Linked DNA regions of Homo sapiens: region 2 is linked to region 1. The links come from fine-mapping of genetic effects on gene expression. A gene starts in region 1. The other region holds a variant in brackets. All regions are shown on one strand. Distances are between the middles of the regions. Region 1 holds the start of HOXA-AS2 (HOXA cluster antisense RNA 2). Region 2 has its middle 78 kb from the start of HOXA1.

Region 1 (5,376 bases):
TATTCTGCCAGGAATGGAGGTATGCATCTAAGCTTACACTTGACCTGGACGGTCACAGGTGTGTACAGCCAGAGAAGAAGGATGGGTTCTTGCCTCATGGGCCATCAAAGCTGCTTGGGGAGATTTTGTAACCAAGCCACCCTAGTCATAGAGCTCAGACAGGTGGACTGGCCACTGGGCTCAGGAGGGGACAGATGTCAGGGCATCTCGGAGAGCAGTGGACTCCCCACTATCCACAACGGTCATAATCCCAGGATGACTAATTCTGTCATGCTTGCCCTGCTATTTCCATGGTGGTGGCTTGCCTCAGACCAGGGCAAGGATGAATGTGCCCCGGAGGCCGGCAGAGCCAAAAAAAGGACCCTGGTTGCAGCTGATAAAGGTGTAGCGCCTGTGCAAGGGAGATATTGAAATTGTAATCTTTGAGGTCACGTGACTCATTAAATAATTAATGCAGATCGTCAGGAATGGATCGGAGTCGTCAGGGCCTCACTAGGAATGAATCTCTCAGAAGTGAGATTCCAACTTACCATTTGATTTTTAAAAACACACACCCTCAGATTTATCTCCAAAGGCTTTTAACTCCTTCAGGAAGGCAGGAGAGAGCCCTCGGCAGGGAGGACGGAGCTGGCAGGCCCTCACCAGATCTTGGGGCCTTTTCCGCAGGGTTTCTGCGAGTCCAGGGAGCGCGCCGCGTCCGGGGAAACGTGAGTTCGGGCTTGGGTTTTCTGCGGTCACATCCTGGCTTTGGTGATGAAGTGGGACGGATGCGCAGACAGTTGGTAATGTTCTGATTCACGCTGGGGAAGGCTGCAGAGATACCACAGGACGGGCGCGCGGCTTTGTTCAATTTTCCCGGCGTTCATAAATCACCCGCGCCGGGCGAGCGAGGGAGCAAGCGAGCGCCAAAAACGCGGAGAGAGAGGCCACGGCGGCGGCGGCAGCCATTGTAAAGTGAGAGACCTGGGCAGCATCTCTCTGTGACTCATTAGTCTGAACGATTTATGGGGTACAGCAGCCATGAATATTAGACTTGGAGATAAGGAAACAGCAAAAATAATAACCATAATAATTACATACTCCTAAGTGTCACGCAGGGGAGTGGTGGGTGGCGGCATAGCGGATCTTTCTGGAATGAAATTGAGAGGCAAAGTGCAGGATGGCTGAGTCCACCTTGCTCATGGTCATGCCAGGAGCCCCAAGACCAGGGGGCACTCCCTTTGGGGACACAGAAAGCAAGTTTGAACAAGAGAAAGGGGGCGCAGCGCGCAGCGTGGATCCTGGGTCCTTTTCCTTTGGTTTGTGGGGGCTACGGGTCGAACTGTGGCAGAGCGCAGCTACCGGTGTGCGGCCACTTGTTCCACGTGCTAGGGGGCTCCGAAGCCAGGGGTCAGGGGACTCCTCAGCTATTTGATATCCCCTCTTAGCGCTATCTACAGAATTGCGTGAAGGCAGACAGACAGCGGAGGGCTGGTTTGGGGCAGGCTGGGGTAAGAGGTTACCTGGGTCTGAGTGAAGGGGTAGTCGGGGCAGGGATAGGTCTGTAGACGCAAAGGGCCCGCAGAGTCCCAGCGGAGCGCAGAACTTCTCCAAGCCAGGGTCCGGCGAGCGGACGATTCTTTCCTCTTTCCCCATCATCTCCCACTCCCAGAAAGCTGACTGCCGGCTCGGTGACCATTTGCTGGTTAGAGGGCAAGAGAGGGTTGCAAATACTGTGAGGGACGAGATTTGAGCAGAATCAAGGCATCAGATCGGCTTGTGGCCGTTGCGCAAGGCCAGGCAGGAGCAGGGCCCCTGAGCAGGTATTGTACCAGCCGGCGTCCCTCTCAGTTTCCAGCAGCCTTAGCTGGCCTGCTCTGAGGGACTAGGTGCTGCGGTAGCCCCGCCAGCCCACTAGGACCTAAAAGGAACGCACCCAGAGTTGAATAAACCAGAACACAAATCCTCCCAAGACTGCCTCTGGCCAGTGGAATGAACCCGGGTCTGATTTCGCGCCTACAGAAATGAACACATATTAGTGAGGTTTCAGGAGAGTCCGTGATTGAATGCTCCCAGACAAGGCTTCCTTTTGTTAGGAAAGGAAAATAAAGCAAGCATTCACATTCTCCAAGTTGTGGTGCCTGAGGAGAGAGCTCTCTGAAAGCAGCCCACACCACCAGCAAAGCCACTTCCACCTTCTCAGCTTCCTCTGTTTGCTTCATGTCCTTTCCTTCCCCACTCCCCCGCCAAAAAAAAGAAAGAAAAAGGAGAAAGTATGGGTGTGGAGATGGAGTATGTATTTATTTTACAAAAATAAATCACCATCTTCGGACCATTTGTAGACTGGAACATTTCGAGCAATGAGTGCGCCACACGGACGAGTGCCCTGGTGACTCCCTGATGTTCGCGTCACCCCCAGGGCCACCTTGGCGCCCGCATGAGCCTCGCTTCCCACTCCCGGCCTCCAACTCCCTTCCCTCGCAGCCGCCATTCACCTTCTGCTGTTTATTTGTCTGCAGAGCGCCTGGACACCGGAAAAGGCGATTCCCTGAGCGCCTGGAGTTGGAGACAATTCCTGGTTCAGAATTTAAACATCTTTCTAGGTAAGCGCTGCTCCAAAACTCTTCGCCGCGTGGGACTTTGCACCAGGGCGGTTGGGAGGAGTTGGCCCTCCACGGTTCCTGGCAACCGCGGCCTGTTGAAAGAGGTTCTGGTCAATATTTAACTTCGGAGGAGTTTGGAGTTGGATTCCTTTAAGCTTCTTGCCCTGCGAGTGCGGGGCCTCAGGCAGACAAAGAGCCTACCCCAAAACCAGCGATGGGCAGGAGAAGCGGTTGCAGAAGGCAAAGATGGGTTGTGGAGAGTCAGAGGGAGTGTGTTTGTTTCTTCCTGCAAGCCCCAAACAAACCACTACACTGAACTTCAGGGCAAAAGCAAGTAAAGGCCACGGGCACGGGCGCGGCGGCCGCTGCGTGGGCTGCTCTCTTTGTCGACTAAGGCGACTGCGGAGGCTGTGAGTTAAGAAATTGTCGCCAGTCCCAGCTCGCTGTTGAGGAAAACTTGTATCACACTCTTGCAGTTTCTTAGACCATTTTGCCTTTCCTTCGGCATGAGAAAAATTGCTGTATTTCTAACCTTTAGGCCTTCGCAGACAGCGGGTCTTCTTCCTTCTTTCATCAGGGCTCATCATCGGTTCTTCCTACGGGAAAAGCGTGGTTTTCTATGTCTTGGCGTTTCCTTTTCCTATTTGAAACAAGGGAAAACTCTTTTAAATTATTTTCAAGTTCTGACTTAATTTGTCCTCTTAGTTTGGGATGCAGGGAGGTAATTACTGTGGTTTATTACCTTGTAAAAGATCCATAAATTACATGCCTGTTTGGGGGAGGGGCTGCTGGAATAGCTTTCAGAAGCATGGTATGAAGGAATGAGTTTGCTTTGTTCTTTCAGGAATTACTTCTTTTTAAAAAGTTTTGAGATTTTGTATTCTATTTCCTAGGCCTCCAGTCTTCCCTTAAATTTGCTCCCAAATAGATATCAGGTTGTTAATTAATTGCAACATGATATTCAGTCGTGCTATAAGGCTGATATGGTGTTCTGGATACAATTATTTTTTCCAATAGAAGGTAAACAGAGCAATAGTCAAGCTGTGTTACTTTCTCAGCTACTGTATGTCTGTTTATATCAAATATAGATGGAACATTTCAGGAATTTGTAACTCTGTGTATATGATTTCCATCTCAGCAAACAACAGAACAATTGCATGTATAAATAGTTGCAGGAATTTGGGGCCTTGTGTATAACACAATATACACATCCACACGTGTCCAGAGAACTTGGCCCATTTCTCTACTGCACTTGCACCCACAGGAAATATCTCATGTTAAATAAGAATCTATCATACACACACACACACACACACACACACACACACACACACACACGCACACAGTGGGCTAAGAGAGCCTTACCTGATGCTGAGTAGAAAATCCACTAGATTTAAGTAATGGGACAAAAATGTTAAGTGTACTTTTGACAGAGAAATCAGATTGCAGTGTTTGAGTACAGATATATCTAATCTGCCAACAGCCTTGCAAATATTGGCTAACGGTGTGTACCCTTGGTTGCCTGCTTTTTCCAAGCCAGCTTTCCCCCTATTTTGGCTCTGGTGACCAGGACCACAGTATCAGTCCCAGCGCAGGCCAAGTTGGAGGCCGGTGAAGTGAGTGAAGAGGGACTGGCAGCTGGGTTTTTAAAAGGCCCGTAGCTTTGCTCCAGGAAACTGGATTGCAGAGTGGCAAAGGAGGACTGTCAGCTGCTGGTTCCCCAGATAGGCTGCCCAGGCCAAGATCTCTCATAGAGAAGCTGTTTTTTAACCTCAAAAGTTAAATGTCTTTTGACTTTTCAGATTTTTCCCTTCTCATCCCACCAAATCACCCATCCCACCCCAAGTCATTAATGTTAATTGTTAAACAGCAGTTGGAGCATTAACTGGATGTTAGCAGCCGTTTGGAGGCCCCAGGCTGGAGCTGAGATGCCTCTGAGCTTTGCTGGCGTTAAGGCATTTCTCTGAAGCAGTACCAATGACTTATTTCATTGATTTATGGCTTTTTTTTTTTTTTTTTTTTGACAGAGTCGCGCTCTGTCCCAGGCTGGAGTGCAGTGGTACGATCTCAGCTCACTGCAACCTCTGCCTTCTGGTTTCAAGTGATTTTCCCACCTCAGCCTCCCGACTAGCTGGGATTACAGGCATGCACCACCATGCCTGGCTAATTTTTGTATTTTTAGTACAGACGGGGTTGCACCATGTTGTTCAGGCTGGTCTCGAACTGCTGACCTCATGATCCACCCACCTCGGCCTCCCAAAGTGCTGGGATTACAGGCATGAGCCACCGCACCCGGACAATTTATGGCTTTAAGAGTTTTCATTTGCTCGACTGTTCCAAGAGCTTTGAAGGGGGCCCCTTCTCATCTTTGAGTTGATGCCTCTTCAGAAACTTGGGGGTAGGGAGGAATTTGCCAGCAATACCTCCAGGTCCCTTTCTAGGGTATCTGGAGAGCTCAGTGTGAATGATTGGTGAGGGGTATGAGGCAGGCAGCAGTAAGAATGAGAGGAGTGAGTTCTTGGGGGTCAGGAGAACGCTTTTTGGAAACCAGCTTCTACTCCTGTCCTCTATCCCCCAAACCTGAGAGAGGCAGGTTTTCACTTGGAGTTCTTACTTTCCAGCTTGTAACTTAGATAGGAGCTGGAAAAGTTCACATGGAGGTTCTCTTCCAGCTACACCACAGATTGAACCTTACTGAAATATTGTCACCAGCTTAGGCCAGGACTTGCTTCCAGGGGATTAGGTCTCTTCTTTTATTGCCTTTCTGATTTGGACAACCCATGAACAAGTTCTC
Region 2 (5,376 bases), 100 kb after region 1:
TAAATGCTACAGACTTATAAAAACACCCTTTAAATACTTATTTAAATGTATTTCATACTTACTTAATTTAGTGAAATTTTTTCCCCAGTGGATGAGATTCTTTTTTAAAAAATCCATCCCTTCAAGCATTTGTTATTTGAGTTACAAACAATACGATACACTTCATACGTTATTTTAAAATATACATTTAAGTTATTATAGACTATAGTCACCCTGTTGTCCTATCAAATAGTAGGTCTTATTCATTTGTTCCATTTTTTTGGCACTCATTAACCATCCTCATCTCCCCCGATTCCCCCACTATCTTTCCCAGCCTCTGGCAACTATTTTTCTACTCTCTGTGTCCATGAGTTCAATTGTTTTGATGTTTAGATCCCACAAGTAAGTGAGAACATACGATGTTTGTCTTTCTGTGCCTGGCTTGTTTTCCTTAACATAATGATCTCCAGTTCCATCCATGTTGCAAATGACTGGTTATCATCCTTCTTTATGGCTGAATAGTACTTCATTGTGTATAAGTATCACATTTTCTTTTTTCTTTCTTTTTTTTTGAGACAGAGTTTCACATTTGTTGCCCAGGCTGCAGTGCAATGGTGTGATCTCAGCTCACCACAACCTCTCCCTCCTGGGTTCAAGCGATTCTCCTGTCTCAGCCTCCCGAGTAGCTGGGATTACAAGCATGAGCCACCATGCCCGGCTACTAATTTTTGTATTTTTAGTAGAGATGGGGTTTCACCATGTTGACCAGGCTGGTCTCGAATTCCTGACCTCGTGATCCACCCGCCTCAGCCTCCCAAAGTGCTGGGATTACAGGTGTGAGCCACTGTTCCCGGCCAAGTACCACATTTTCTTTATCCATTCATCTGTTGATGGACACTTAGGTTGCTTCCAAATCCTAGCTATTGTAAACAGTGCTGCAGCAAACATAGGAGTGGAAATATCTCTTTGATATAATGATTTCCTTTCTTTGGGGGATATACCCAGCAGTGGAATTGCTGGATCCTATGGTAGCTCAATGATCAGTTTTTTGAGGAACCTCCAAATTCTCCCTAGTGATTGTACTAATTTACATTCCTACCAACAGAATACAAGGGTTCCCTTTTATCCACATCCTCACAAACATTTGTTATTGCCTGTCTTTTGTATATAAGCCATTTTAACAGGGGTGAGATGGTATCTCATTGTAGTTTTGATTTGCATTTCTCTGATGATCAGTAATGTTGAGCACCATTTCATATGCTTCTTTGCCATTTGTATGTCTTCTTTTGAGATATGTCTGTTCAAATGTTTTGCCCATTTTTTGATTGGGTTGTTAGATTTTTTTTCCTATAGAGTTGTATGAGTTCCTTATATATTCTGGTTGTTAATCCCCTATCAGAGGAGTATTTTGCAAAGATTTTCTCCCATTCTGTGGGTTGTCTCTTCATTTTGTTGATTGTATTCTTTGCTGTGCAGAAGCTTTTTAACTTGATGTTATCTCATTTGTCCATGTTTGTTTTGGTTGCCTGTACTTGTGGGACTCAAGAAATTTTTGCCCAGACCAATGCCCTAGAGATTTTCTCCAATTTTGACTTGAAGCAGTTTCATAGTTTCAGGTCTTAGATTTAAGTTTTTTTTTTTTTTTTTTTTTTTTTTTTTTGAGACAGAGACTCACTCTGTCACCCAGGCTGGAGTGCAGTGGCACAATCTTGGCTCACCGCAACCTCTGCCTCCTGGGTTCAAGCAATTCTCCTGCCTCAGCCTCCCAAGTAGCTGGGACTACAGGTGCCCACCACCATGCCTAGCTAATTTTTTTGGATTTTTAGTAGAGACAGAGTTTCATCATGTTGGTCAGGCTGGTCTTGAACTCCTGACCTCCAGTGACCCACCTGCCTTGGCCTCCCAAAGTGCTGGGATTATAGGTGTGAGCCACCTTGCCCAGCCAGATTTAAGTCTTTTAATCCACTCTTTTTATTTGATTTTTTTATATGGTGAGAGATAGGGGTCTAGTTTCACTCTTCTGCATATGGATATCCAGTTTTCCCAGTGCCATCTATTGAAGAGACTGTCTTTTCCCCAGTGTATGCTCTTGGTACTTTTGTCAAACATGACTTCACTCTAGGCGTGTGGATCTGTTTCTGGGTTCTCTATTCTGTTCCATAGAGCTATTGTCTTTTTTTGTGCCAGTACCATGCTGTTTTGGTTACTATAGCTCTGTAGTATAATTCAAAGTCAGGTAATGTAATTCCTCCAGTTTTGTTCCTTTTGCTTAGGATAGCTTTGGTTATTCTGGGACTTTTGTGGTTCCATATAAATTTTAGAATTTTTTTGTATTCTGGGGA[A/C]GGATATCATTAGTATTTTGATAGGGATTGCATTGAATCTGTAGATTGCTTTGGGTGGTATGGACATTGTAACAATATTGGTTCTTCCAATCCATGAACATGGAATATTTTTCCATTTTTTGGTGTCCCCTTCAATTTCTTTCAGTATTTTGTAGTTTTCATTATAGAGATCTTTCACTTCTTTGGCAAGTAAATTTCCGGGTATTTAATTTTATGTGTATAAGTGGGATTACTTTTTAAATTTCTTTTTCATATTGTTCACCTATGGCATATAGAAATGCTACTGATTTTTGTGTGTTGATTTTGTATCCTGCAAATTTACTGAATTTGTTTCTCAGTTCTAATAGTTTTCTTGTGGAGTCTTTAGTAGGTTTTTCCAATTATAAGATTATATCATCTGCAAACAAGGATAATTTGACTTCTTCCTTTCTAATTTGGGTGCCCTTTATAGCTTTCTCTTGTCTGATTGCTCTAGTTAGGATTTCCAGTACTATGTTAAATAACAGTGGTGACAGTGGGCATCCTTGCCATATTCCAGATCTTAGAGGAAAGGCTTTCAGTTTTTCCCCATTCAGTATGATACCGTGGGTCTGTCATATGTAGCTTTTATTATGTTGAGATATGTTCCTTCTATCCCCAGGTTTTTGAGGGATTTTATCATAACAGGACGTTGAACTTTATCAAATGCTTTTTCAGGATCAATTGAAATAATCCTGTGGTTTTTATCCTTCATTCTGTTGATAAGATGTATCACATTGATTGATTTGCATGTGTTGAACCATTCTTGCATCCAGGGATAAATTCCACTTAGCCATGATGAATGATCTTTCTAACGTATTGTTGAATTCGGTTTGCTAGTATTTTCTTGAGGATTTTTGCATCAATATTCATCAGTGGTTTTTCTTTTTTTGATGTGTCTTTGTCTGGTTTTGGTATCAGGGTAATATTGGCCTTGTAGAATGAATTTGGAAGTATTACTTTTTCTTCTATTTTTTGGAATAATTCGAGAAGGATTGGTATTAGTTCTTCTTTAAATGTTTGGTAGAATTCAGCAGTAAAGCCATCAGGTCCTGGGCTTTTCTTTACTGGAAGACTTTTTATTATGGCTTCGATCTCATTACTTGTTCTTGGTCTGTTTAGGTTTTGAATTTCTTTCTGATTCAGTCTTGGTTGGTTTTATGTATATAGACATTTGTCCATTTCTTCTAGATTTTCCAATTTATTGTCATATAGTTGCTTGTAGTAACCACTGATGATACTTTGAATTTCTGCAGTATCAGTTGTAAATGTCTCCTTTTTCATTTCTGATTTTATTTATTTGGATTTTCTGTCTTTTAGTTTGGCTAGAGGTTTGTCAATTTTGTTTAACTTTTTAAAAAACCAACTTTTTGTTTTATTGATCTTTTGTATTTTTTTCTTCATCTCAATTTCATTTATTTCTGTTCTGGTCCTTAGTATTTCTTTTCTTCTACTAATTTTGGGTTTGGCTTGCTCTTGCTTTTCTATTCCTTTAAGATGCATCACTAGATTGTTTATTTGAGGTTTTTACCCTTTTTTGATGTGGGCACTTACAGCTATAAACTTCCCTCTCAGTACTGCTTTTGCTGTATCCCAGAGGTTTTAGTATTTTGTTTTTCCATTATCATTTGTTTGAAGAAATTTTTCAATTTTTTAAAATGTCTTCATTGACCCACTGGTCATTCAGGAGCACTTTGTTTAATTTCCATGTATTTGTATAGTTTCCAAAATTCCTCTTGTTATTAATTTCTAGTTATATTCCACTGTGGTCAGAGAAGATGCTTGATATTATTTCAATTTTTGAATGTTTTCAGACTTGTTTTGTGACCTAACATATACTCTATCCTTGAGAATGATCCATGTGCTGAGGAAACGAATGCATATTCTACAGCTGTTGGATGAAGTGTTCTGTAAATATCTATTAGATCCACTTGGTCTCTAGTGCAGAGTAAGACTAATGGTGTCTGTTGATTTTTTGTCTGGAAGATCTATCAATGCTGAAAGTGGGGCGTTGAAGTCTCTAGCTATTATTGTGTTGGGGTGTATCTCTCTCTTTACCACTAGTAATATTTTCTTTATATATCTGGGTGCTTCACTGTTGGGTGCATATATATTTAAAATTGTTATATTATTTTGCTGAGTTGACTCCTTTCTCATTGTATAGTGGCTTTCTTTGTCTCTTCTTAGAGTTTTGGTCTTAAAATCTATTTTGTCTGATATAAGTGTAGCAACTCCTGTTCTTTTTTAGTTTCCATTGTCATGGAATATCTTTTTCCATCCCTTTATTTTCAGTCTATGTGTGTTTTTACAGGTGAAGTGTTTTTTGTTGCTGTTGTTTTGTTTTTTTGTAGGCAACAGATCGATGGGTCTTGTTTTTTCATCTAGCCAGTGTACGTATTTTCATAAGACAGTTTAGTCCATTTACATTCAATGTTATTATAATAAGTAAGGACTTACTGCTATCATTTTGCTATTTGTAGTCTGGTTGTTTTGTGGTCTTCTCTTCCTTCTTTCTTTCCTTCCTCTTTTAGTGAAGGTGATTTTCTCTGGTGATATGATTTGGACTCTTACTTTTTATATTTTGTGTATCCATTGTATGTTTTTTGGTTTGAGGTTAAAATGAGGTTTACAAATACTATCTTATAACCCATTTATTTTAGCTTGATAAAAATTTAACAGTGTTTGCATAAATAAGCAGACAAGCAAAAAGAAAACTAATAGGCTGGGTGTGGTGGCTCATGCCTATAATCCCAGCACTTTGGGAGGCTGAGGTGGGCGGATCACTTGAGGTCAGGAGTTTGAGACCAGCCTGGCCAACATGGCGAAACCCCGGCTCTACTAAAAATACAAAAATTAGCCAGGCCTGGTGGTGTGCAGCTGTAATCCCAGCTACTCGGGAGGCTGAGGCAGGAGAATCTCTTGAACCTGGGAGGCGGAGGTTGCAGTGAGCTGAGATCGTGCCACTGCATTCCAGCCTGGGTGACAGAGTGAGACTCCATTTCAAAAAAAAAAAAAAAAGAAAAGAAAAACTCTGTGG

The links. PIP is the estimated chance that this variant, and not a neighbour inherited with it, causes the effect. A credible set is the group of variants that fine-mapping cannot tell apart.
Region 2: its variant is the best candidate, but not a certain one, in a credible set for the expression of HOXA-AS2 in whole blood (TOPMed, PIP 0.76).

Annotation. Positions count from the first base shown.
Region 1 is chr7:27,119,765-27,125,140 of GRCh38, reverse strand. HOXA-AS2 (HOXA cluster antisense RNA 2) reads right to left here and starts at 3,222. Exons shown (of 4, transcript NR_122069.1): 1 at 3,115-3,222; 2 at 2,475-2,674; 3 at 1,503-1,681. HOXA3 (homeobox A3) reads left to right here. Exons shown (of 6, transcript NM_153631.3): 4 at 2,499-2,582. RefSeq lists enhancers at 273-1,070, 1,870-2,667, 2,246-3,445.
Region 2 is chr7:27,015,251-27,020,626 of GRCh38, reverse strand. No RefSeq gene overlaps it. Among named protein-coding and RNA genes, the nearest start is that of HOXA1, 78 kb to the left of the region's middle. The variant A/C (reference allele first, on the strand shown) is at 2,322.